Homo sapiens: one gene and its partners. The protein of the gene in region 7 purifies or fractionates together with the protein of the main gene of each other region. This does not show direct contact. Each region holds a gene or a part of one and is shown on either strand. Other genes may lie near its edges. The genes, in order: SLC38A10, TIMM17A, NUBPL, NFXL1, COX16, PNKD and ALDH3B2.

Region 1 (3,500 bases), on a different chromosome or scaffold from region 7:
TGATGATGGTGATGGTGGTAGGGATGGAGATGGTGATGATGGTGACGGTGATGATGATGGTGATGGTGGTAGGGATGGAGATGGTGATGATGGTGATGGTGATGGTGATGATGGTGATGTTGGTGGTAGGGATGGAGATGATGGTGATGATGGTGATGTTGATGGTGGTAGGGATGGAGATGATGGTGATGATAGCGGTGATGGTGGTGGTGGTGGTGGAGGTGACGGTGATGACGGTGATGATGGAGGTGATGGTAATGGAGGGGACTGTGGGAGAGTGGGTCGGTGGGCTCGTGCCGCCATCTGGTGGTAATGACTGAGTATTACATGGAGTCTAGTTCTCCCTGCCCCCAGTTAGGTGTAAATCGCATTTTGACATATTTTTGTTGTGAATACACATGAAAAATGACAGTTTTCTGTGCTACTTAGCTGCTAATGATCGAACAGGAAAAAGAAACTGCTTTGACTCTGCCATTTGGCTGGAAAATATGGTAACAGTCCAGGGAGAGCTGCCCCGCTCCTGGAGCTGCTTGGCAGTGCAGTTCCCTAACTGTGCCCTGCTCCCAGCCCAGGATCCGGTTGTGGCCGTGGCTGAGGATGGCCGGGAGAAGCCGAAGCTGCCGAAGGAGAGAGAGGAGCTGGAGCAGGCCCAGATCAAGGGGCCCGTGGATGTGCCTGGACGGGAAGATGGCAAGGAGGCACCGGAGGAGGCACAGCTCGATCGCCCTGGGCAAGGTGCTGGGCACTGGCTGGGGGTGCGGATGGGGAAGGGCGGCCCCGGGTCCTCCTTTGCAGGCTGGACACCCTGCGGGGTGGCTCTCAGGGCTGTGTGTATCTTTTTCCCTTCAGCCCAGCCTAAGTTCTGGTCCTTTTTGTTTTCTCTGTCTTTCAATTCAGATGAATGTCCTGCCCCTCCCAGAGCAACTTGTTTGCAGCTGCCCCTGTTGAACTTTAGCATCAGCTGTGCTTGGCCAGGCAGCAGGGAGGCCGGCAGGGGAGGTGGTATCTGTTGGCCTGTGTCACACTGTTGGGAGCCAGAACCCAGGGAAGAACCCAGTTCTAATTCCCTGGGAAGGGAAGGAGGGGCCTCAGCCTGACCCCATCTGTCCCCCGTGCCCTTGCAGGGATTGCTGTGCCTGTGGGCGAGGCCCACCGCCACGAGCCTCCTGTTCCTCACGACAAGGTGGTGGTAGATGAAGGCCAAGACCGAGAGGTGCCAGAAGAGAACAAACCTCCATCCAGACACGCGGGCGGAAAGGCTCCAGGGGTCCAGGGCCAGATGGCGCCGCCTCTGCCCGACTCAGAAAGAGAGAAACAAGAGCCGGAGCAGGGAGAGGTTGGGAAGAGGCCTGGACAGGCCCAGGCCTTGGAGGAGGCGGGTGATCTTCCTGAAGATCCCCAGAAAGTTCCAGAAGCAGATGGTCAGCCAGCTGTCCAGCCTGCAAAGGAGGACCTGGGGCCAGGAGACAGGGGCCTGCATCCTCGGCCCCAGGCAGTGCTGTCTGAGCAGCAGAACGGCCTGGCGGTGGGTGGAGGGGAAAAGGCCAAGGGGGGACCGCCGCCAGGCAACGCCGCCGGGGACACAGGGCAGCCCGCAGAGGACAGCGACCACGGTGGGTGTCAGCCTGGGCTCGTGTCGGAAGACACTCCCCTCTTGGGCTGGGGAGGCTGGGCAGGGGCAGCAGAATCGATGGTTCCTCCCTCAGTCCCCAGTCTCTCTCCCTGCACCAGATTAGCATGCAAATGGAGCGGGCCCCGGCAGCTGGTGGGGACAGGAAGAGGCTGGTGGCTGACAGCTACTGTAATATCTGTCACACAGTTGTTTGCCAGACCACTAAATGTCAGGTGCCGCGCTGTGCTCGTGTGTCTGGGCGCACACGGGGGGCGGCGCGGGGGGCGCCTGACAGGTAACACGTTGTTAAGTGCCCGTCTAAGAGCTGCTTAGGACAGTTCTTGCATTTTAATTGCGAAGGCAGTTACCATTGGCTCATTGCCACAAGCCTATGAGGTTGTTAAATATTTTTTTATTGCTTCGCTAGTAATCATCAGGTTGAATATAAACTGTGCTGACGGGGGTGTCACTTTAGAAACATCTGCCACTTCCTTTTGTCCCGCCCTTGCCTTCTGTCCCCCAACCCCCCAAACCCTCCCTTGACTTTCCTGCAAAACCTTCTGAGTCTTCACCGTGTGTGCAGGTGGGAAGCCTCCCCTCCCAGCGGAGAAGCCGGCTCCAGGGCCTGGGCTGCCGCCCGAGCCTCGCGAGCAGAGGGACGTGGAGCGAGCGGGTGGAAACCAGGCGGCCAGCCAGCTGGAGGGTAAGGCCTCCGCCCTACAGCCGCCTGCCTCAGGCCCAGGGAGCGGCAGCCCCCTCCCCCAGCCCTGGGGTGATGCCCAGGTCATCCTCGGGAGCCCTGCCAGGCCCCCCTTCTCTTTCCAGCCGCCTGCTGAGCAGACCCCTCGGAGAGCTTTCTGCTCCCTTCCCATCAGCAGCTTGCTTTCTGGGAACCTTTTATCTGCCTTACTCCCCTTTAAACACCTGCGGCATCGTCACATGGCTTGTGATTACCGTTTTATCTCCCTTGCTCCCCTTTAAAACACCTGCGGCATTGTCACTTGGCTTGTGATTACCATTTCGTCTTTAAAGCAGGTTTGTTAACAGTTTTAACACTCGGAGTATTTAAAGCCAGCCAGGTGTGGGCGTGCCTGCACCCAGATGTGGAGGTTTATTTTAAGGCTGTGCCCCAAGGGGACCCAGTTTGGGGGTGGCTGTGCCCGCCCTGGTCCTAGCATAGCCCTGGCCCAGAGCACTGCTCCCACACCCTCGGGCCTCGGAGCTCGGCTGTGTTCATCTACAGGGATCTGTCACCTGTCCCTCCAGGAAAGCTCCTTACGCCTTTGCTCTCCTGAGAATAAAACTTGCTCTGAATCCTCCTCCAAACTTCTCGCCCCTTGGGTCTCAGCTGTTGGCTTTTTGCGACCCCTCCTTGTGGCCTCATGCAGTTGGGTAGCAGCAGCCCCGTCTGTGAGCCTGCTGGGGACAGGCTTCTGTGCCATGTCCTCTCCCAGGCTAGGGGTCCACCCGCCCTCTGAGGGTGTGTGGCTGGGCCCCCGCTCACCAAAAGTCACGTGCATTTGGTGGCAGTGTCCAAGCCTTCTCTCAAGATGGTCAACCCTGCCCCATGCGGGGTCCACGTGTGCCTCAGCATTGAGAGGGTCTGTTCCAGGGATCTGTGTGGGGGTCGCAGGGCACAGCCGCTCCAGCCTCCTGTGCCAAGCCCCTGGGAGCAGGTGTGGGAGCTCCGGGCCAGCCCTGGCACGGGCACCTCCCAGGATGTTCGTAAGACACACGCTTCCTGCCCGCGCATCTTGCCCTGTGGCCTCAGGACAGCCGGTCCGAGGGAGGGCAGGTGCAGCAGCCACGTCCCAGTCGCTGCGGCCTGGCTTCTCCAGGTGCAGCTCGCCCTCCTTGCACCTGCAGCGCGGAAGGCAGAGCCAAAAGG
Region 2 (3,500 bases), on a different chromosome or scaffold from region 7:
GGCTCTGGATCCTCACACCAGGCTACCCTTTATGGATCTCCTCCTCATCCTGCTTAGACTCAAATTCTCCATTCTCATTAGTAGCCAACACTTATTCTGGCAATGATTCTCAGGGGAAGGGTCTCCTGAGATTTTAGGCTCATGAGGAAATGGGAGGGTCTTGTCAGAAAATTTTAGTGAGGTAATTCTAATATACCTAGACGTCATAGCTCTCTCCCAGGGCATAGAATTACTGAGTTAGAAGAAATAACTGGTTTGTTTTTACATAGGATGTGATGTCTAATATTGTACTAAAAATGAGGATGCTTATGCTATACTCCACTGGTACTATCCACTGGATTTATTTATTTTTTTTATTTTTTGAGACGGAGTCTCGCTCTGTCGCCCAGGCTGGAGCACAGTGGTGCAAACTTGGCTCACTGCAAGCTCTGCCTCCTGGGTTCACACCATTCTCCTGCCTCGGCCTCCAGAGTAGCTGGGACTACAGGTGCCCGCCATCACACCTGGCTAATTTTTTTTGTATTTTTTAGTAGAGACGGGGGTTTCACCGTGTTGGCCAGGATGCCCTCGATCTTCTGACCTCATGATCCACCCGCCTCGGCCTCCCAAAATGCTGGGATTGTAGGCGTGAGCTACCGCACCTGGCTGTTTTTGTATTTAGATAGAGTTTAAGTGCAAAGTAATCTGCTGATTTAAGGTTGTTTTAAATTCATATCTGAGGAATAAAGGATGGACAGGCAATTTCCATCCCTTTGATGTTCCATAGTTCTAGCTATTTATATCATTCATTTGCCCCTTCAGCATGGATTGGCTTACACCTGTAATACGTTCCAGAATAGCTGGATTTCTTTTGTTTTCCCATCGGTGATTTTCATAGAGTAGATGCTCAATGACATATAATGCAGAAAGGCCAAAAATAGAGGTAAGTAAAGCTATGAAAGAAAAGAAGAACGAAAGAGGAAGCAGAGTAGTTTGATTTTGTTTATTGCTGCTTAAACCAGAGAGATATGTTATTCTGGAAGGGTGATTTGCTTGTTTTTACACATATGCAGCCTGACTGTTTTAGGCTTGGCTTCTTTTTTGTTTGTTTGAGATGGAGTGTCGCTCTTGTTGCCCAGGCTGGAGTGCAGTGGCACGATCTCGGCTCACTGCAACCTCCGCCTCCTGGGTTCAAGCGATTCTCCTGCCTCAGCCTCCCCAGTAGCTGGGATTACAGGTGCTCGCCACCACACCCGGCTAATTTTTACATTTTTAGTAGAGGCGGAGTTTCGCCATGTTAGCCAGGCTGGTCTTGAACTCCTGGCCTCAGGTGATCCACCCACTTCAGCCTCCCAAAGTGCTGGGATTACAGGTGTGAGCTATGGCACCCGGCTGGCTTATTTCTTATAGGCTTTGGGCCGTTGCTAATTTTCCAGCTGATATAATACAATCCAGCTTTATTCGAAAGATAAGTATTCTAACTCTTGTTCGGTGTTTATTCAAACTTGTGTTTGCATGTATTTGTTTGGACTATAAATTTTGAGACTATAGTGAGTATGTTTTTGACTATAATATTTTAAATGGAAGATGAAATTTAAATTAGTATTTGCTTGTTTCTTTTTACAATAAAATAGGTAGCTTTGCAGTTTGGGGAGGGCTGTTTTCCATGATTGACTGTAGTATGGTTCAAGTCAGAGGAAAGGAAGATCCCTGGAACTCCATCACAAGTGGTGCCTTAACGGGAGCCATACTGGCAGCAAGAAGTAAGTAGTCATTACAGACATACTAGTAGAAGCCACACTTTTAGGAAAACCTCATCTGCCTCAATTGAATGACATCTGTAATATATAAAACTGATTATTGACCAGGCACATTGGCTCATGACTATAATTCCATCACTTGGGAGGCTGAGGCAGGTAGATTGCACAAGTCCAGGAGCTTGAGATCAGATATAGGGAGACCTGGTCTCTACAAAAAAAAAAATTTAATTAGCTGGGTGTGTTGGTGCATGCCTATAGTCCCAGCTACTCATGAGGCCGAGGCAGGAGGATCACTTGAGCCACCGCACTCTCACCTGGGCAACAGAGTGAGACCCTGCTTCAAAAAAAATAATAATTATAAAACTGAGCATTGTTTAATTTGGCATAGCATAAATATACAGTATATGGTGATTTGAAAAAAAAGTAAGGGGATCTATTTATTTGGAATATTTGAGAATGAAAGAGCATGGAATTCTAACCCATATATTACAGTGGTTGAGAGCACTTCAGGTCCCAGTTCTGCCATTAATTAGCTGTATGACTGGTCAGTTTACCAAACTTTTTATGCTATAATTTCTTCACCAGTAATCTGGAGTTAATTAATAATTACACCTGCCATATAGAGTTGTTATGAATAAGGAACTTAGAACCATCTTCTGGATCCTCAGGACAGAGAATTCCTTTGAGCTTAGTGGTTTAGACCAAGGGATTTGCAAACTATTTCTGTAAAAGGCCAGATAGTGAATATTTTAGGCTTTGTGGGCTGTGTGGTCTTTGTCATAGCTACCTAAATCTGCTGTCATAGCATGAAAGCAGCCATGGATAATACATAAACGAAACAGTATGGCTGTGTTTCAGTAAAACTTTATTTATTTATTTATTTTATTTTATTTCTTTTTTTTTTTTTTTTTTTTTTTTTTTTTTTGAGACTGAGTCTCACTCTGTCGCCCGAGCTGGAATGCAGTGGCGCAATCTCGGCTCACTGCAAGCTCTGCCTCCCGGGTTCAAGCGATTCTCCTGCCTCAGCCTCCCGAGTAGCTGGGACTACAGGTGTGTGCCACCACGCCTGGCTAATTTTTTGTATTTTTAGTGGAGACGGGGTTTTACCATGTTAGCCAGGATGGTCTCGATCTCCTGACCTCGTAATCCACCCACCTCGGCCTCCCAAAGTGTTGGGATTACGGGCGTGAGCCACTGCGCCCGGCCCTATTTATTTATTTATTTTCTTGAGACGGAGTCTTACTCTGTCACCCAGGCTGGAGTGCAGTGGCACAATCTCGGCTCACTGCAACCTCTGCTTCCTGGGTTCAAGCAATTCTCCTGCCTCAGCCTCCTGAGAAGCTGGGACTACAGGTGCCCGCCACCACGTCAAGCTAATTTTTGTATTTTTAGTAGAGACGGGGTTTCCCCATGTTGGCCAGGCTGGTCTCGAACTCCTGACCTCATGATCTGCCTGCCTCAGCCTCCCAAAGTGCTGGGATTTATGGCCTTTCAGTAAAACTTTATTTACAAAAATAGGCAGTGGGTGGACTGTGGGTGGCTGTAGTTTACTGACTCTGGGTCTTAGGCAATAAGAAAGAGTTTGGGAGTTGGGGGAGCATGTCACCATATGGACAGTTCTCTTCTTTACTATCTCTTACAGTAAACTAGATTTCTGTAAAAAATAATCTCTTTGTTATTAATGTCTTCAGATGGACCAGTGGCCATGGTTGGGTCAGCCGCAATGGGTGGCATTCTCCTAGCTTTAATTGAAGGAGCTGG
Region 3 (3,500 bases), on a different chromosome or scaffold from region 7:
TCCTCCAGGCTTATTTATGTTTGTGAAAATGACAGAATTTCCTTCCTTTTCTTTGCTTTTTTTTTTTTAAACTTTTATTTTATGTTTGTGAGTACATATGAAGGTTTGTTACTTAGCTAAACACATGTCACAGGGGTTTGTTGTACATATTTCATTTCCCAGATATTAAACCTAGTACTCAATAGTTATATTTTTTCCTCTCTTCCTCCTCCGATTTTCCCGTCAAGTAGACCCCACTGTCTGTTGTTTCCTTCTTTGTGTCCCTAAGTTCTTATCATTTAGTTCCCACTTGTAAGTGAGAACACGTGGTATTTGGGTTTCTGTTCCTGCATTAGTTTGCTAAGGATAATGGCCTCCAGCTCTATCCATCTTCCTGCAAAAGACATGATCTTGGTTTTTTTTTTTGTTTTTTTTTTTTTACGGCTGCCTAGTATTCCATGGTGTATATGTACCACATTTTCTTTAACCAGTCTGTCATTGATGGGTATTTAAGTTGATTTAATGTCTTTGGTATTGTGAATAGTGCTGCAGTGAACATTTGTGTGCATGTGTCTTTATGGTACAATGATTTATATTCCTCTGGGTATATGCCCAGTAATGGGATTGCTGGGTTGCATGGTAATTCTGTGTTTAGCTCTTTGAGGAATTGCCATATGCTTTCCAGAATGGTTGAGCTAATTTACACCTCCATCACCAGTGTGTAGGTGTTGCCTTTTCCCCGTAACATTGCCAACATCTGTTATTTTTTGATATTTTAATAATAGCCATTCTGACTGGTGTGAGTTGGTATCTCATTGTGGTCTTTATTTGCATTTCTCTCATGATCAGTGATATTGATCTTTTTTTCATATGTGTTTTGGCTGCATGTATGTCTTCTTTTGAGAAGTGTCTTTTCATGTCCTTTGCCCACTTTTAATGGGGTTGTTTTTCTCTTCTAAATTTAACTTCCTTATAGAGGCTTGATATCGGACCTTTGTCAGATGTATGGTTTACACATATTTTCTACCATTTTATAGGTTGTCTGTTTACTCTGTTGATAGTTCCTTTTGCTGTGCAGAATCTCTTAAGTTTAATTAGATCCCACTTGTCAATTTTTGCTTTTGTTGTGATTGCTTTTGCTTTCTTTGTCATGAAATCTTTGCCCATTCCTATGTCCAGGATGGTAATACCTAGGTTGTCTTCCAGGATTTTTATAGTTTTGGCTTTTACATTTAAGTCTTTAATCCATCTTGAGTTGATTTTTGTATATGGTGTAAGAAAGGGGTCCAGCTTCAATTTCTACTTATGACTAGCCAGTTATCCCAGCACCATTTATGGAATAGAGAATCCTTTCCCCATTGCTTGTTTTTGTCAGCTTTATTGAAGATCAGATGGTTGTAGTTGTGTGGCCTTATTTCTGGGCTCTTTATTCTGTTCCATTGGTCCATGTGCCTGTTTTTGTACCAGTACCATGCTGTTTTGGTTACGGTAGCCCTGTAGTGTAGTTTGAAGTTGGGTACCATGATTCCTCCAGCTTTGTTTTTCTTGCTTTGGATTACCTTGGCTGTTTGGGCTATTTTTTGGTTGCTTATGAATTTTAAAATAGTTTTTTCTAGTTCTGTGAAGAATGTCATTGGTAGATTGATAGGAATAGCATTGAATCTGTAAATTGCCTTGGGGAGTATAGCCATTTTAATGTTATTGATTCTTCCTATCCATGTGCATGGGATGTTTCTCCATTTATTTGTCTCATCTCTGTGTTCTTTGAGCAGTGTTTTGTAATTCTCATTGTAGAGATTTTTCACCTCCCTAGTTAGTTAGATTTCATTCTTTTTAATGGATGAATAGTATTCTATTGTGTCTATATACCAAATTTTCTTTATACGTTCATCTAATGTTGGACATTTAGGTTGATTTCATATCTTGACTATTGCGAATAGTGCTGCAGTAAACATAGGAGTGCAGATATCTCTTTGACATACTGATATCACATTAAGCAAATATTAGCAGACCAAATTCAGCATTCTATAAAACAACTGCATTATAATTAAATTGGGTTTAATCCAGGAAAGCAAGTTTGTTTCCAAATTAGGAAAAATCTCTTAGTGTAACTCACCGTTTTAGCAGATCAAAGGTGAAAAAGCATGTGATAGTTCAGATTCTTTAATCTGTATTCATATGGTAATTGAAGAAAATGGCCAAAAATATTGCCAACCGTGATAGCGAAAGGTTATAATTGGATGCTTTGGAAAGAATTGAGAAAATCACATAGAAGAAAAATAGTGCTTTCAAATTAGGTATGGGGAGATTGAGCTAGTTAGTTTAGCCAGAAATTAAAGAAGGAAACTATAAACATACACTCATTGAGTATTCCTTTAATGAAGGACCACGGCTTTTTCTTTGAGTAGGGATTCAATGAATGGAATATGGCAGAGGATTTCTTATATAATCCATGCATATATGCTTTACACAGTTTTCAGTCTCAGTCTCTTGACAAGAGGGGAAAAACCCTGAAGAACATATCTTGAAATCTGAAAACAGGATACTCCTAGGTTTTATGACTTTGTCCTAGACTTTTTGCCCAATACTTGTCCAAATCATATTTGTTATGGTAGAGAAGTAGGATATGAAAGCAAGAGTGAGTGGGAAGGTGATTGCATAGATAGTTTGATAAAACAAATTATATTTTATTGTAATCATTTGTTGACTATATAAAGGATTTTTTTACTTCACTATAAGCAATAGATTGCTTTTCTCTACAGATTAATGCAATTTTTCATCTCAGATTTCAAAATTGAGTTTTTCTACTTTTGTGGATTTTTATACTTTTTAAGCTAAGTAAAGGAACAAATAAGTAGTAACACTCCAGTGTAGGAAGGACTGATTAGATATGTGTGTGTGTGTGTGTGTGTGTGTGTGTGTGTGCATGCAAATATACACATACATGTATGCACATATTAGATTAGCATATATATAATTTATATGTTTATGTATCTTTGTATATGAATAAAATTGGACAAAATTAGTTATTGAGGCTATTTTTTAGAAACATTTTAAAATTGTAGTTGAGTTGTTTTATTGAGGTTATTTATTTTTTTTGAGACAGAGTCTTGTTCTGTCACCCAGCTGGAGTGCAGTGGCACAATGTGGGCTCACTGCAACGTCTGCCTCCCAGGTCCAAGCGATTCTTTCATGTTAGCCTCCTGAATAGCTGGGACTATAGGCGTGCACCACCATGCCCAGCTAATTTTTGTATTTTTAGTAGAGACAGCATTTTACCATGTTGGCCAGGCTGGTCTAGAACTCCTGACCTCAAGTAATCCACCCACCTTGGCCTCCCACTGTGCCTGGTATTGAGGCTGTTTTTTAGAAACATATTTAAAATTGTATTTGAAGTATTTCTTAATACAATTATGTCCCAACTATTTATCAATGTTGTGTCTATTGGAAATAGTATGCTTGGTATAATGTTTAAACTGTTGCAAATTGAGTTATATTTAGTTGAAAGTTAAATTGCACAA
Region 4 (3,500 bases), on a different chromosome or scaffold from region 7:
ACCCATAACAAAAGAGCGTAAAAAGCTGAAACCAAAATAACATTTTTTTTTATGTTTAGAAGAGAAATATTTGGGATTATATCCTAAAATGGTGGCTTAGTACTTAGTCTTTCACAAAGCACAATTAATGGAAAATTGACTGTGCTTGCTACTAACCAATATCAGGTCATGAGAAAGAAGTTATTGGGAATTCATCTAAAAATTGTGTACTTGGATAGATGTATGAAAGTAGGCCAACGATATTATTGTTAATGTTAAATTTTCCAAAGACTTAAATCCATTTTTGCTTGTTTTAGTTTTGAATGAGTAATGTGTTAAATTTGTTATTTAGAACAGAAGTTTTAGCACATTTTAGAGAAATGTCTAAAACTTTATGAGGTACCAGTGTACAGAGAAAAAAGTGTTATAAATCAGAGGCTGGGTGCAGTGGCTCACGCCTGTACACCCAGCATTTGGGAAGCTGAGGTGGGAAGATTGCTTGAGTCCAGGAGTTTGAGACCAGCCTGGATGACATAGTGAGACCCCTCCATCTCTATAAATAATCAAAAATTAGCTGGGCATGGTGGTGTGTGTCTGTAGTCCCAGCTACTTGGAAGGCTGACGTGGGAGGATTGCTTGAGCCCAGAAAGTTGAGGCTGCACTGAGCTGTGATCATGCAACAGCACTCAGCTTGAGCAACAGGTTGAGACCCTGTTACAAAAAAAAAAAGAGAAAAGTATTACAAATAAAAAGTATACAGCTTGTTGAATTTTTACAAACTGAACATAGCCAGGTAACCAAAACTTACATCATTAAACAGAACATGACCAAAATTTTCAACACCTTCCTTGCATCCTTCATAGCTATCACTCTGATTTTGAACAGTACATTTTTTCTTGTTTACTTTATATAAATGGAATCATGCACTATGTACTCCTTGTGTCTGGCTCAATGTTTTGTGGTAAGATTCATTCATGTTGTTGTAGTTTCTTCATTCTTGTTGTAGAGTATCCCATTGTGTGAATATACTAAATTTATGTATTTTACCATTAATAGGCATTTGGGTAGTTAAGGAAACTTTTTAATTGTCAGACTTTTTTTTCAGGCAGTTGCTATCCCTGCCCAGAAACCGTAGATGTGAAGTGTAATTGTGGCAATACAAAGGTGACAGTGCCCTGTGGCCGAGAACGTACCACAAGACCACCCAAGTGCAAGGAGCAATGCAGGTGAGTTTGAAGCTTTGCACAAGCTTCCATCTGATGTTGTACAAATTTAAATTCATATTGGCTTTTAATAATTTAATTTTGCTTTAGTGTTTTAAAATATTAATATTCACAGTATACTCATTCTATATGGAATCAGAAGATATGTAAATAGATAATTGTCCTTTAGATGTAATTATTCAATGACTAAAAGTAATTTTTGAAAATTGTACTTTATGATTTAGTCGACCACCAACTTGTCATCATACAAGTCAAGAAAAACATCGCTGTCACTTTGGTTCTTGTCCACCATGTCATCAACCTTGCCAAAAAGTTTTGGAGAAATGTGGTCACTTGTGTCCTGCTCCGTGTCATGATCAAGCATTAATAAAGCAGACTGGCAGGGTAAGGGAATAATACTATTAGAGAAATAGTGCATTGCTGTGGGTTGTACTTTCTTGCTTTTACTTAGTTTTTCAATGAGCAATGATTAAGCACTTATTGGGAAGCACTGTGCTTGGAGCAGGGTACAAGGTAATCAAGACTTGATTTTGTTTTAAGCAACTCACAGTGTAGGAAAGGAGTGAAACCATTGTTTGCAAATACAGTGTGATAGTTACATTATGATCATGATACAGGTGAATTTGGCAGTCCTCCTTCATATATTGTGGTTTAGGGTTATAGATATCTCCTATAATCTTATTTTAAAGATTTATTCACTTTTTAATATTTTATTTAATATTTATTTATTTTTAGTTATTTAATTTTTTTTTTTTTTGAGACGGAGTCTCACTCTGTTGCCCAGGCTGGAGTGCAGTGGTGTGATCTGGGTCACTGCAACCTCCACCTCCCGGGTTCAGTGACTCTCGTGCCTTAGCCTCCTGAGTAGCTGGGATTATAGGTGCCTGCTACCATGCCCAGCTAATTTTTGTAGTTTTAGTAGAGATGGGGTTTCAGCTTGTTGATCAGGCTGGTCTCGAACTCCTGACCTCAAGTGATCTGCCCGCCTCCGCCTCCCAAAGTGCTGGGATTACAGGTGTGAGGCACCACGTCCAGCCCAGCCTCATGAACATTTATTGAGCCCTTACTAAATATCAAGCTTTTTTTTAGGTGCTGAGGAACAACAGTGAGTAAAATGATGGAGATTATATTCAATTGCTAGATGTTGGAGTTTCCAATTGTTTTTCTCATTTCCTTATTGGAAGTAAAGGAGGCTACACTGCCTTTGTTCTACCATTTATAAACTGGATTCTGTCTCAGTTATTAATATCAAATGTCTGTGGAGAGGAACAATTTCATTTAATACAGATAAAATGAAATATTTCAGTAAGCACAATTTATTGATTATTTGAAAAAATTTCAACCTGCTTGAGCAGAGGATACATGGAACTATTTTCTTAGATTCTTAAAATGGCCATATGATTTAATCCCTCTGACTTAAAATTCTTATGTATTTTATTTGTAGCACCAGCCTACAGGCCCTTGGGAACAGCCTTCTGAGCCAGCATTTATTCAGACTGCATTACCGTGTCCTCCATGTCAAGTTCCTATTCCTATGTAAGTATTAGAATTTCAATTAAAAAAAAAAAACAAAAAACTTTTGACATAGCTTAAAGGGTATCTGAAGTCAATCTCCCTTTTTTCTTAGTTCAGTTCATTATTATTTCAGGCCTAGCCTATCAACTAGTGTGTCTGTCTTAACCTTCATTCTTTTCAAACATGTTTGTCATACTTGCATATAAACCTACTATAGATATCTTTTTTTGAGTCTTTACCCCCAGTTGGAGTTTGATGCCCTTCTTAGCTTTCCATAGCGAGTGCATGCAATTACAAAAACAAATCCAAGGAACATCATTTGTTACTTTTCCCGATGATTCCCATACTGGATTGTAAGCTCCCTGAAGACAGAAGAAAGCCAGGTTTTAGATAAGGCAAACTTGGGGAATATTTAAAGGAAGCCTTGGAAATGAGAGGAAGTAGTTTCCTGGATGGGCCAGTGAATGACTGGGACTGAGCTCTAAGGAGCTGAACCTACAGTAATACGGAATCCTGGAATTTTTTATACTTCCAGCAGAGGTTATGGAGTATAGGGGAAAAAGCACAGAATGCTGAGAAGCAACATAAAGTTAGAAAAGGGGCTGTTGTCTACAACTGAGGTGCCAAATTAAACATTGGTATTTCTGGTGTATTGGTCTTTTAAAGAGAGGATTGTTTTTGTTTTTTAATTCTAAAAGCTTTCATTTCCACAACATTCCTCCCAGTTGAAATAGCATGTATATTTTTGTGTATTGGTCACACAGTCAAGTTGGGAGGCAAAGT
Region 5 (3,500 bases), on a different chromosome or scaffold from region 7:
TCGGTGCAAGCTTCAGAAGCTTGATGATGGCCCTCAAACCTCACAAGACCGTCTTAATTTAGCCTTCATAGTCTTTAACAATCGTGATAGGGAAAGTAAAAGGCAAAAACAGGCGGAGTTTCAAATGCTTGCCTCCGCCATCAGGGGCCCTGCAGGCCCACGGGTCCGCAGCTCCACACGGAAGCCTCCTAGCAACCTACCTCCACTTGGCACCTTTTCAAGTGCGGCAATGAAGGCCACTGGTCCAGACAATGCCCAAATCCAGGTAAGCCCACCAGGCCATGCCCCCTCTGCAGAGGACCCCAATGGAAATTGGACTGTGAGCGGCCCCTGCAAGGGCGGCCCCATCACTTCCTAAGCCGGCCAAAACCTCCTACTTGGATCTCATTGGCCTTGCCGCTGAAGATTGATGGTGCCCTGGAATGGATGCCCCGGCAACTACCATCGCTTCATCCGAGCCAAGGGTAACCCTGATGGTGGCAGGTAGGCCAGTATTTTTTTTTTAATTAATACCGGGCAAACTACTCTGCTTTACCTAATTTTTCAGGACACACCCAGTCCTCCCTTTTCTCCGTTGTGGGAATTGACAGACAAGACTCCAAACCCTGAGCCACCCCTCCACTTTTCTGCTCCCTGCACACCTTTTCCTTCAGTCACCCTTTCTTAGTCCTGCCCTCATACCAGAGACATCCTTTCAAAACTCCACACTACTCTCCACTTGCACATTCCCCATAGTACCCAACGCATCAACCCAGACCCCTCGGGGCATCTAACTTTCTTCTACTCCTCCAACCTGCCACCTTAAAACATGCAACTTTACCTTATCCCCCATCCGTAGTTAACCCCGCTGTTTAGAATATTTCCACACCTTCAGTCGCAAAACACCACACCCCCGTCCGCATTACCCTTAAAGAGTCCACCCAGTTCCTATCACAGAAGCAGTATCCCATCCCCCAAGCAGCTCTCATAGGCCTAAAGCCTATCATTTCTCGCCGCCTCACCAGTCACCTACTCCACCCAAGAAACTCTCCTTTTAACACACCAGTTCTACCTGTTTAAAAGCCAGATGGAACTTATCACTTAGTCCAGGACCTCAGGCTCATTAACCAAGCTGTACTCCCAGTATGTCCAGTAGTTCCTAACCCATATACTTTACTTTCTGCAATTCCCTCCAATACCACCCATTTTCCTGTTCTATACCTAAAGGATGCTTTTTTCCACAATTCCTTTACACCCTGATTCCCAAAACCTCTTTGCCTTTACATGGGAAAACCCCGACACCCACCTTTCACATCAGCTCACCTGGTGCGTACTACCTCAAGGTTTCAGAGACAGCCCCCATCTTTTTGGACAGGCCCTTGCTCATGACCTCTGTACCTTATCCCTAAAACCGTCCACTCTCCTTCAATGTGTTAATGATCTGCTCCTGTGTAGCCCCTCTCAAAGAGACTGCAACGCCCATGCTATCTCTCTCTTTTAAACTTCTTGGCAGAACGGAGGTATCGGGTCTCCCCTAAGAAAGCACAAATATGAGCCCCCTTAGTCACTTATCTAGGCCTGGCTCTTACCCCATGAACCCGAGGGCTCACAACCGACCACATATCCCTCCTCCAGTCTCTCCCACCTCTGCAAACTAAGCAAGAAATTCTCTTTCCTAGGACTAGTGGGATATGTTAGGCTCTGGGTTCCCTCCTTTGCTCTACTTGCCAAACCATTATACCAAGACACTAAAGGCCCTCTCCATGAGCCTTCAAACCCTGCATAGCCTATTACCCAACCTTTCCATCTACTCCAGAAGACTCTCATCTCAGCCCCCATCCTCACTCTCCCAGACCTCACCAAACCTTTCTCCCTCTATACCAACGAACGTGTAGAGTTGCACTAGGTGTTCTAACCCAGTCTAAGAGACCCACCCTCCAGGTTATCGCCTACCTCTCCAAACAGCTTGAAGCCACAGTTCTCAGATGGTCTGCCTGCCTCCAAGCACTGGAGGCAGCTGCTGTCTTCATCCTTGAAAGCCTAAAACTATCTCTCCATGCCAACCTAACAGTTTATTCAACCCATAATATCAAAGACATGCTAGCTCACCACAGTGTACTAAGTCTCATCTCTGCCCCACGGCTCCTCCAACTGTATGCTCTGTTCATAGAAACCCCCCAAATCACCGTGCTAACCAGCTCTCATGTAAACCCTGCCATGCTCTTTCCTGAAGCTACAACCGCCCAATACCCTACACACTTCTGTGTGAACACTGTTCAAACCTTTCTTACACCTTTTCCAAACCTAACAGCCCAACCCCTTCCAGATGCCTCCTTTACTTGGTTTGTAGATGGCAGCTCCTTCCTATGTCAAGGATGCCGGCATGCTGGCTATGATATAGTGTCACCCCCTCACACACACTACTGAAGCCAATCCGCTCCCCCAGGCACCACCTCCCAAAAAGCTGAATGCACTGCTCTCACTCAAGATCTCACTCTAGTAACCAGACAACAAATTAACATATATTCAGATTCTCATTATGCGTTCCATATAGTACACTCACACTCGTCTATGTGGAAAGAACAAGGTTTTTTAACTGCAAAAAACACTCCTGTCATAAATGGCTCTCTTACCAGCAAGCTCCTTCAAGCTGCCAGACTCCCGCAGAAAGCTGCCTTCATTCATTGCAGGGGCCACCAAACCCGGGACAATCCTATATCGGCTGGAAATGCGCTAGCAGATCAGGTAGCCAAACAAGTAGCCCTGCAACCCATGCAAGGCCAGTTTCTGTCCCTGTCCTTGTTCTCTCCTCTTTACTCCTCAGAAGAAAAGGAGGACTTCTGAGCCCAAAACCTTCAAAAGCAAGGACCATGGTATGTCAAGGAAAGGCACTTCATTCTTCCTCACTCTCAAAGCCTTCCTCATCTCCAAAGCCTCCCCAACACTTTCCATGTTGGTTACAAATTCTCTTGCAACTTCTCCGCCCTGTTCTCACTTGTCCTCACCTTTCCAGCTATGTTCAAGATATTACCCAGTCCTGCTCTATCTGCCACTCAGTGTCACCCCAGGGCTCCCTCCGGCCACCGCCTTTTCCTACCCACCAAGCCCGGGGCCAGATACCCAGGCACGATTGGCAAGTAAACTTCACTCACATGCCGCCCAATAAACAGCTCCGCTATCTTCTAGTCTTGGTCTGTACCTTCTCCAGGTAAGCAGAAGTGTTCCCAACAACTTCAGAAGGTGCAAATGTCACACAAACTCTCATCATGCATATAATTCCCCATTTCGGCCTCCCAACATCCATCCAGTCCGATACAGGCCCACCTTAATCAGCCAAATTATCCAAGGCGTCTCTACGTCCTTAAGAATAAAGTAGGTTCTCCACACACCCTACAGGCCTCAATCTTCAGGCAAAGTTGAAAAAATGAACTCTGTCCTTAAAGCCCAACTCACCAAGCTGGCTCTAAAAACCCAGCAGTTGTGGACAAAAAAAATCTCCCTTTTGCCCTCATAAGGCTCTG
Region 6 (3,500 bases), on a different chromosome or scaffold from region 7:
CTGTCCCCAGGAGTGAAGGTGCTTCCCATCCCTGTCCTCTCGGACAACTACAGCTACCTCATCATCGACACCCAGGCCCAGCTGGCTGTGGCTGTGGACCCTTCAGACCCTCGGGCTGTGCAGGTGAGGGGAGGGCAGGGAGCAGGGGGTGCCTGGAGTCACCTTGGGGACTGGCAGTTTCGCCTTGCTAGAGAGGGCTGACCCTTGTCCGTCTGCCCGTGGGATGTGTCCCATATGCTCCATGTTCACACGTGCACATGCGCACACATAGCCTGGGGAAGGGGGGTACAGGGCATGGCTGGGCAGAAGGGGAGAGCAGGAGTGGGGGATGCAGAGCCAGAGGGCTGGGGGTGTTGGCCCAGGACTCTGGGTCTAGTGAGTTTCCAGGCTGGCTTTCACTCCCATTGGCCCCCTTCAGACCCCCTTTCTTTCTGTCACCTCTGTCTGTCAGTATCTGGGTCTCTCTGTCTTTCCCTCCCATTCCTTATCTCTCTGTGTCTGCCTCTCTCTATGTACAAGTGTCCCTCTGCCTCCATGTGCCCCGTGCTTCACATTCCTGGATCTCTCCCCTCCAGCTCCATCCCTTTCCTCTGCTTCATCTCTCCATGCTCTCCTCTCCTCTCCACCAGCGCCCACACTCCTGGCTCTTGCTGCTTCAAGTGCCTCTTGCATCCTGCTCCCCAGTCTCCAAACCTCCTCTCTCTCGCAGGCTTCCATTGAAAAGGAAGGGGTCACCTTGGTCGCCATTCTGTGTACTCACAAGCACTGGTAAGGGGCTCCCGTCTTCCCTGGCCCACCCTTGTCCCAGCTGGGCTTGCCAGGACTGGGCCCATTGAGGACGGCCGGGGCCAGAGATCAAGAAGTCAGTACGGGCCGGCACCCGCCTTCCTCGTGAAGTCACCTGGACACCAGCAGGGAGGGAGGAGAGGGGACAGTCTCCCACCACTCCATTGATCAAGCTTCTGAAGCCCCAGAGGGCAGGGCAGTCATTTCTCTTTCATTTCATGGGCATGTATTAGATACCTACTGCACACTGGGCATGGACAAAAGTTATGACTCTTCCATCAAGGAAATTCTAAGACCAATAGGGGAGGTAGCCCTGTATCAAAGTATATAACAGCGGAGGCAAGAGGGTTGGGAGTTCAAGCCCAACCTGGGCAACATAGTGAGACCTTGTCTTCAAAAAAGAAGTATGTGATATTTAGGTAACAGTTGGCACAGGGAACAGGGATGGGAGGCCCAGGCACGGTGTGATCAGATCCACTTGGAGAATTGAAAGATGATGACCTGAGCTGAGGGTTCAGGAAGCTCGGCTGGCATTGGCCAGCTTGAGTTGTTGGGGGCGATGTTCTGGGCAAGGGAACAGCTTGAACAAAGGCCTAGAGGTGTGGACAACTTGGCTTAGTCCAGAAGCCACAGCCCCAGCACTTAAAGGCCTGGAGATGCTGTGGTAAAGAAGGGGGCTTAGGTACAGTTGCCCCTCGAAGCCCCCTGCCTGTCTCTGCTGTCCTGCAGGGACCACAGTGGAGGGAACCGTGACCTCAGCCGGCGGCACCGGGACTGTCGGGTGTACGGGAGCCCTCAGGACGGCATCCCCTACCTCACCCAGTAAGTCCCTGACCTAGGCAAGGGATGGCCCTTCCATGGGCCCTTTCCCCCACCCCCAGCCTTCAGTGAAGTGTTTCAGGGGTATCAGCAGGTGGATCTTTGCCAGTGCCCTTCCTGGCCCAATCCCAGCCTATCTGAAGACTGGCACTGCCCATCCCCCAACTGATCCAGCCATAGTCCCCAAAAGAGGAAAGGGGGAGGGTTCGGACCTGAGACCCGAGGCACTGGGGTGACTTCTTTTGTATGGAAGCCCACTCTCTTGTGAATCACCCAGCCCCTTGGGCCTGGGATGGGGACAGGGATCAGCATGGCACAGATCCAATACCTTCTGTCCCCTGCTCCCTTGTTCCCCAGTCCCCTGTGTCATCAAGATGTGGTCAGCGTGGGACGGCTTCAGATCCGGGCCCTGGCTACACCTGGCCACACACAAGGCCATCTGGTCTACCTACTGGATGGGGAGCCCTACAAGGGTCCCTCCTGCCTCTTCTCAGGGGACCTGCTCTTCCTCTCTGGCTGTGGTGAGTTTCCCCGAAAGAGAGAGGAGCTGGGAGAGGAGGGAGAGACAGAAGCCAGGGCAGCCACAGTCCCATGGAGAGCACTGAAGCCTTAGTTTTAGCACAGATGTTGCCGTGGCAGTTACTTCCATCTGTGTTACTCAGATTGGTTTTAATCCTTGAGACTTCCCTTGGGGCACCTTGGGAGGCTGAGGCAGGAGGATCACTTGAGGCTAGGAGTTGGAGACCAGACTGGGCAAAATAGCAAGACTGTCTCTACAAAAAAATTTTAAAATAGGCCAGGCGTGGTGGCTCATGCCTGTAATCCCAGCACTTTGGGAGGCTGAGGTGGGAGGATCACCTGAGGTCAGGAGTTCAAGACCAGCCTGGTCAACATGGTGAAACCCCGTCTCTACTAAAAATACAGAAATTAGCCGGGCATGGTGGTGCATGCCTGTAATCCCAGCTACTAGGGAGGCTGAGACAGGAGAACTGCTTGAACCCGAGAGGTAGAGGTTGCAGCGAGCTGAGATCGCGCCACTGCACTCCAACCTGGAAGACAGAGTGAGACTCTGTCACAAAACAGAAAAAAAAATTTAAATAATATAAATAATATAGGCCAGGAGCAGTGACTCAGGCCTGTAATCCCAGAACTCTGGGAGGCCAAAGCAAGTGGATTGCTTGAGCCCAGGAGTTCAAGACCAGCTTGGGCAACATGGTGAAACCCCGTCTCTACAAAAAATACAAAAATTAGCCAGTGTGGTGGTGAGCCCAGGAATTCAAGGTTGCAGTGAGCTATGATTGTGCCACTGCACTGCAGCCTGGGCAACAATGAGACTCTGTCTCAAAAATAAAAAAGACTTCTGCCAGCTGCGGGACAGAATGGGAGAATGTCTGTAGCTGAGTAAAGCCCTGCAGGGAATTAGTTTCCCCTGGGTGGAGACTGGTTCTCTGATACAGTGACTGGCAGGACTAGGTTATGAAAAGTTAAGAACAGCTAGGTGAGTGGGTGGGTGAGGATCACAAGTCCCAGGCTGCATGAAATCCCAAAGGGCAGCCTAGGCGAAGAAGTGTTCCGTGGGAAAGAGCAGCCCTGCGTCTACCAAGCCTGGGGCCTGCAGCCCGAAGATTCCACAGCCCCTCCCTTCAGGTGTCACTGTGTGCAACGGAGGCCTCGGATGGGCTTGGTCAGGGGGTGACCAGTTGGGCCCAGTTCCCAGTGAGGAGGGAATAGATGCCTGGGGTGGGTCTGGAAAGTGCACAGTCAGGGCTGACGGCCAGCCAGAGCATTACAAGCTGGTTCCCACCTGTCTGGGTGTGCCTTATGCCATATTGTGTTATCCTGGCACCTTGTGACATACCCTCCAACCCCCACCCAGGGCGGACCTTTGAGGGCAA
Region 7 (3,500 bases):
GAAGCAAAGAACCCTCCGAGTCCCTCGTTTAGTCCCAGAAGGGAGGGAGGCCCAGGGGAGAGCTCTGTTCCATCTGAGTGGTCTGGGTGTAGGGGTGGCAAGGTGCCAGCGTGGGTGGGTGTGTGTCTGCGCAAGGAGGGGAGGTGCAGGGAAGAGCTGGGATGGTGGGCAGCAGGGTCACCCGAGGTGTGTGTGTTGGGCTTCCAGGGTGGGCGTCCAGGAGGGGGATCCCCTCCCTGGAGTAGGGGAGGTCAAGCCCAGGGCCCTCCCTCATGGGCACACCTGGGAGGCAGGTGAGTTGGGGGTGGTGCAGGCAGCCCCAGCCCCGTGGGGTCATTCGAGTGGGTCTGTGTGTGTATGAGGTGGGGTGTCTGTGAGCCCCCATGGGTGCAGGTGGGGCAAGGGTGTGCAGACCCTGGGGTGGCTGGAGGGTGCCCGTGAAGGAGGGGCAGCCCTGGCCACCCAGTTCAAGCCACCCCATCCGGCAGGATGGACCCCTTCGAGGACACGCTGCGGCGGCTGCGTGAGGCCTTCAACTGAGGGCGCACGCGGCCGGCCGAGTTCCGGGCTGCGCAGCTCCAGGGCCTGGGCCACTTCCTTCAAGAAAACAAGCAGCTTCTGCGCGACGTGCTGGCCCAGGACCTGCATAAGGTGGGCCGTGGAGAGTGGGCCCCGGCAGGGGCTGGAGCAGCGTCCCTGTCCTCTTTCAGGAGGGCCCGTGCCCCCTAGTGACTGGCTATGTCCCTAGTTTTATTCCTGTTTGTTTAACAGACCCCCTCCCTGGCATGTGGAGTGTGGCAGGCACCTGACCTTCACTCCTGAACACTCACAGCCACCCTGTGATGCAGGCTCCATGGCTGTCCCCATGTTGCAGATGAGGAAACTGAGGCACTCAGGGGTTAACATCGCTTGCCCAAGGCCACACAGCCAGGAAGTCACAGATCAGAATTGCAGCCATGCGCAGTTCCCAGGGGACGGCAGTGCCTCCCATAGGAGCTGTATTTATATGTCCAGTGGTGGTGGTGCCTGCGTGTGCCCTCCTCAAATTCTAGACCCCTCCTGGCCCAGGTCTGGGCCTGACCACTCTGAATTCCACCTCCACCACAGCCAGCTTTCGAGGCAGACATATCTGAGCTCATCCTTTGCCAGAACGAGGTTGACTACGCTCTCAAGAACCTGCAGGCCTGGATGAAGGATGAACCACGGTCCACGAACCTGGTGAGCCCTGCTGGCAGGCGGCAGGAGGGCAGGGCAGGGCACCGGGTAGCTCTGGCCCAGGCCCCCTTCTGCCCCTGAGGCCCCGGGCGAGTCACTGATTTTCTCGTCTCTCCTGGGATTCCATCGCACAGGGAGCTGAGGCCCCAAGTGTGCAGTGGGTGGGCTTTGGGGTGGCCCTTGGCAGGGCCTCACTGTCTACCCTGTGCCTCAGTTCATGAAGCTGGACTCGGTCTTCATCTGGAAGGAACCCTTTGGCCTGGTCCTCATCATCGCACCCTGGAACTACCCACTGAACCTGACCCTGGTGCTCCTGGTGGGCGCCCTCGCCGCAGGTGAGGAGGGCGTTCCGAACCCCATGCTCTCCCCGCCCAGTAGCCCCTCCCAAAGAGGCCCCTGGAATCTTGCTCTGAGGTACCCTGGGCCTCACATGCCCTCTGAGCCCAGCCCCTGGTTGGGCATGGGGACCCTGGGCTCCCCCAACGACGTCCCCATCTGCCCCTGCAGGGAGTTGCGTGGTGCTGAAGCCGTCAGAAATCAGCCAGGGCACAGAGAAGGTCCTGGCTGAGGTGCTGCCCCAGTACCTGGACCAGGTGAGGGTGGCCCTGCCCCAGCAGTGCCCGACGTCCCCATATATCACCCCTGTGGGCTGAGGAGGCCCGGCTGGCCCCGAGCCCGCCCCGAGCCTCTCATTCCACCTTGCAGAGCTGCTTTGCCGTGGTGCTGGGCGGACCCCAGGAGACAGGGCAGCTGCTAGAGCACAAGTTGGACTACATCTTCTTCACAGGTGAGGGGGCCAGGCCAGGGTCCCAGAGTAGGTGGAGGGGATCATCAGGAGAGAGGGTGGGAGGGTTGTGGAGGGAGGAGGCTGGGGCCAGCAGTGGGGGCACGTGGGGAGCTGGAGCTGGCACAGAGTCCGTCTGCCTGCATAGGCCACGCCCTGGGCACATTGCAGCAACTGGATCCAGGAGTGGCCAGGCTGGAGGCAGGTCCCAGTGGGTGAGCCAGACCGGCCAGGAGAAGGGTGAGGCGGGCCAGGACTTTCTATGAAGAAAGCGGGCAAGAGTCAGGTGCCTGGAGTGTGTGGTCAAGGCCAGTTGAGGATGGGGTCTCCTCACCATGTCCCTAGGAAGCCCGCCGACTCCAACACCTCTCCAGGGAGGAGCAGGCTCTGGGCTGGGCCATCCTGCCTGGTCCAGGTCACTGACTGGCCACTCTGGTTTCCTTCCACGCCCAGGGAGCCCTCGTGTGGGCAAGATTGTCATGACTGCTGCCACCAAGCACCTGACGCCTGTCACCCTGGAGCTGGGGGGCAAGAACCCCTGCTACGTGGACGACAACTGCGACCCCCAGACCGTGGCCAACCGCGTGGCCTGGTTCTGCTACTTCAATGCCGGCCAGACCTGCGTGGCCCCTGACTACGTCCTGTGCAGCCCCGAGATGCAGGAGAGGCTGCTGCCCGCCCTGCAGAGCACCATCACCCGTTTCTATGGCGACGACCCCCAGAGCTCCCCAAACCTGGGCCACATCATCAACCAGAAACAGTTCCAGCGGCTGCGGGCATTGCTGGGCTGCAGCCGCGTGGCCATTGGGGGCCAGAGCAACGAGAGCGATCGCTACATCGGTGAGTCCTGCTGCCCTACCGCAGCCCACCTGGGCCAAGACCCTTTCTCAATGGAGGGCCCACGGCTGGGCCACGAGTCTGGACTCGCACCTGAAACCCGGCCCCACTATCAGAGCCCGGCCTTGAGCCATGGCTCTGGTGCCACGATTCCGTCTCTGTGCTTCTGAGCCTGTGGCCCCATGAGGCCATACTCTGGTCCCTCAGCCCTGGATTCACTGAGCTCAGATTCCAGGGCTCCAGGGCCCAGCGTGCTAAGGTGAATTCCCATCCCACCACCGGCTGTCCTGAAAGGCCGTAACCTCTGATTCTCCGAGCCCATGATCCCCAGGTTCTAAACTCTGACGGCCCCATCCTGAGCCCCCAGTCTCCTGGGCCGTATGACTCAGCAGCTCATGGGACACTGCAGCTCCAACATTCTGGGACGCTGCTGCCTCATGAACTCCAAGGTTCTAAGATCCCATCACCCCTGACTGTGAGACCAAGGTCGGGGGATTCTCTGCGCCCCACAGGCCCTGAGCAGGCTGGGGAAGCCCTAGGGTCCCTTCTGGGGGGCTGTGGGGAAACTTTCTTCCCTAAACACTCCAAAGCCTGAAGCGCTGGGAAGTCAGACCTTGGGATCCTGGCCTGGAGCCCTGGCCCATGCCCCTGTCCCCACCTCTAC

What was found.
Region 1: the proteins of ALDH3B2 (region 7) and SLC38A10 purify together in Homo sapiens (affinity purification with mass spectrometry; one large-scale study listed by BioGRID and IntAct). This does not show direct contact.
Region 2: the proteins of ALDH3B2 (region 7) and TIMM17A purify together in Homo sapiens (affinity purification with mass spectrometry; one large-scale study listed by BioGRID and IntAct). This does not show direct contact.
Region 3: the proteins of ALDH3B2 (region 7) and NUBPL purify together in Homo sapiens (affinity purification with mass spectrometry; one large-scale study listed by BioGRID and IntAct). This does not show direct contact.
Region 4: the proteins of ALDH3B2 (region 7) and NFXL1 purify together in Homo sapiens (affinity purification with mass spectrometry; one large-scale study listed by BioGRID and IntAct). This does not show direct contact.
Region 5: the proteins of ALDH3B2 (region 7) and COX16 purify together in Homo sapiens (affinity purification with mass spectrometry, with the first as the bait; one large-scale study listed by BioGRID). This does not show direct contact.
Region 6: the proteins of ALDH3B2 (region 7) and PNKD purify together in Homo sapiens (affinity purification with mass spectrometry; one large-scale study listed by BioGRID and IntAct). This does not show direct contact.

What each region holds. Positions count from the first base shown.
Region 1 is NC_000017.11:81,250,308-81,253,807, reverse strand, and holds part of SLC38A10 (solute carrier family 38 member 10), read left to right. Parts: intron 1-567; coding exon 568-735; intron 736-1,124; coding exon 1,125-1,613; intron 1,614-2,195; coding exon 2,196-2,315; coding exon of another isoform or gene 2,316-2,593; exon of another isoform or gene 2,594-2,938; intron 2,939-3,500. UniProt on the Homo sapiens protein: Facilitates bidirectional transport of amino acids. May act as a glutamate sensor that regulates glutamate-glutamine cycle and mTOR signaling in the brain. The transport mechanism remains to be elucidated.
Region 2 is NC_000001.11:201,962,003-201,965,502, forward strand, and holds part of TIMM17A (mitochondrial import inner membrane translocase subunit Tim17-A), read left to right. Parts: intron 1-1,613; coding exon 1,614-1,742; intron 1,743-3,430; coding exon 3,431-3,500. UniProt on the Homo sapiens protein: Essential component of the TIM23 complex, a complex that mediates the translocation of transit peptide-containing proteins across the mitochondrial inner membrane.
Region 3 is NC_000014.9:31,669,404-31,672,903, forward strand, and holds part of NUBPL (iron-sulfur cluster transfer protein NUBPL isoform 1 precursor), read left to right. Parts: intron 1-3,500.
Region 4 is NC_000004.12:47,883,584-47,887,083, reverse strand, and holds part of NFXL1 (NF-X1-type zinc finger protein NFXL1), read left to right. Parts: intron 1-1,084; coding exon 1,085-1,205; intron 1,206-1,426; coding exon 1,427-1,586; intron 1,587-2,646; coding exon 2,647-2,738; intron 2,739-3,500.
Region 5 is NC_000014.9:70,346,184-70,349,683, forward strand, and holds part of COX16 (cytochrome c oxidase assembly protein COX16 homolog, mitochondrial isoform 1 precursor), read right to left. Parts: exon of another isoform or gene 145-3,500; intron 1-144.
Region 6 is NC_000002.12:218,340,019-218,343,518, forward strand, and holds part of PNKD (probable thioesterase PNKD isoform 1 precursor), read left to right. Parts: intron 1-10; coding exon 11-123; intron 124-709; coding exon 710-768; intron 769-1,515; coding exon 1,516-1,608; intron 1,609-1,892; exon of another isoform or gene 1,893-1,962; coding exon 1,963-2,126; intron 2,127-3,481; coding exon 3,482-3,500. UniProt on the Homo sapiens protein: Probable thioesterase that may play a role in cellular detoxification processes; it likely acts on a yet-unknown alpha-hydroxythioester substrate.
Region 7 is NC_000011.10:67,664,624-67,668,123, reverse strand, and holds part of ALDH3B2 (aldehyde dehydrogenase family 3 member B2), read left to right. Parts: intron 1-488; 5' UTR 489-651; intron 652-1,107; 5' UTR 1,108-1,188; coding exon 1,189-1,218; intron 1,219-1,429; coding exon 1,430-1,550; intron 1,551-1,722; coding exon 1,723-1,808; intron 1,809-1,920; coding exon 1,921-2,002; intron 2,003-2,452; coding exon 2,453-2,839; intron 2,840-3,500. UniProt on the Homo sapiens protein: Oxidizes medium and long chain fatty aldehydes in lipid droplets into non-toxic fatty acids.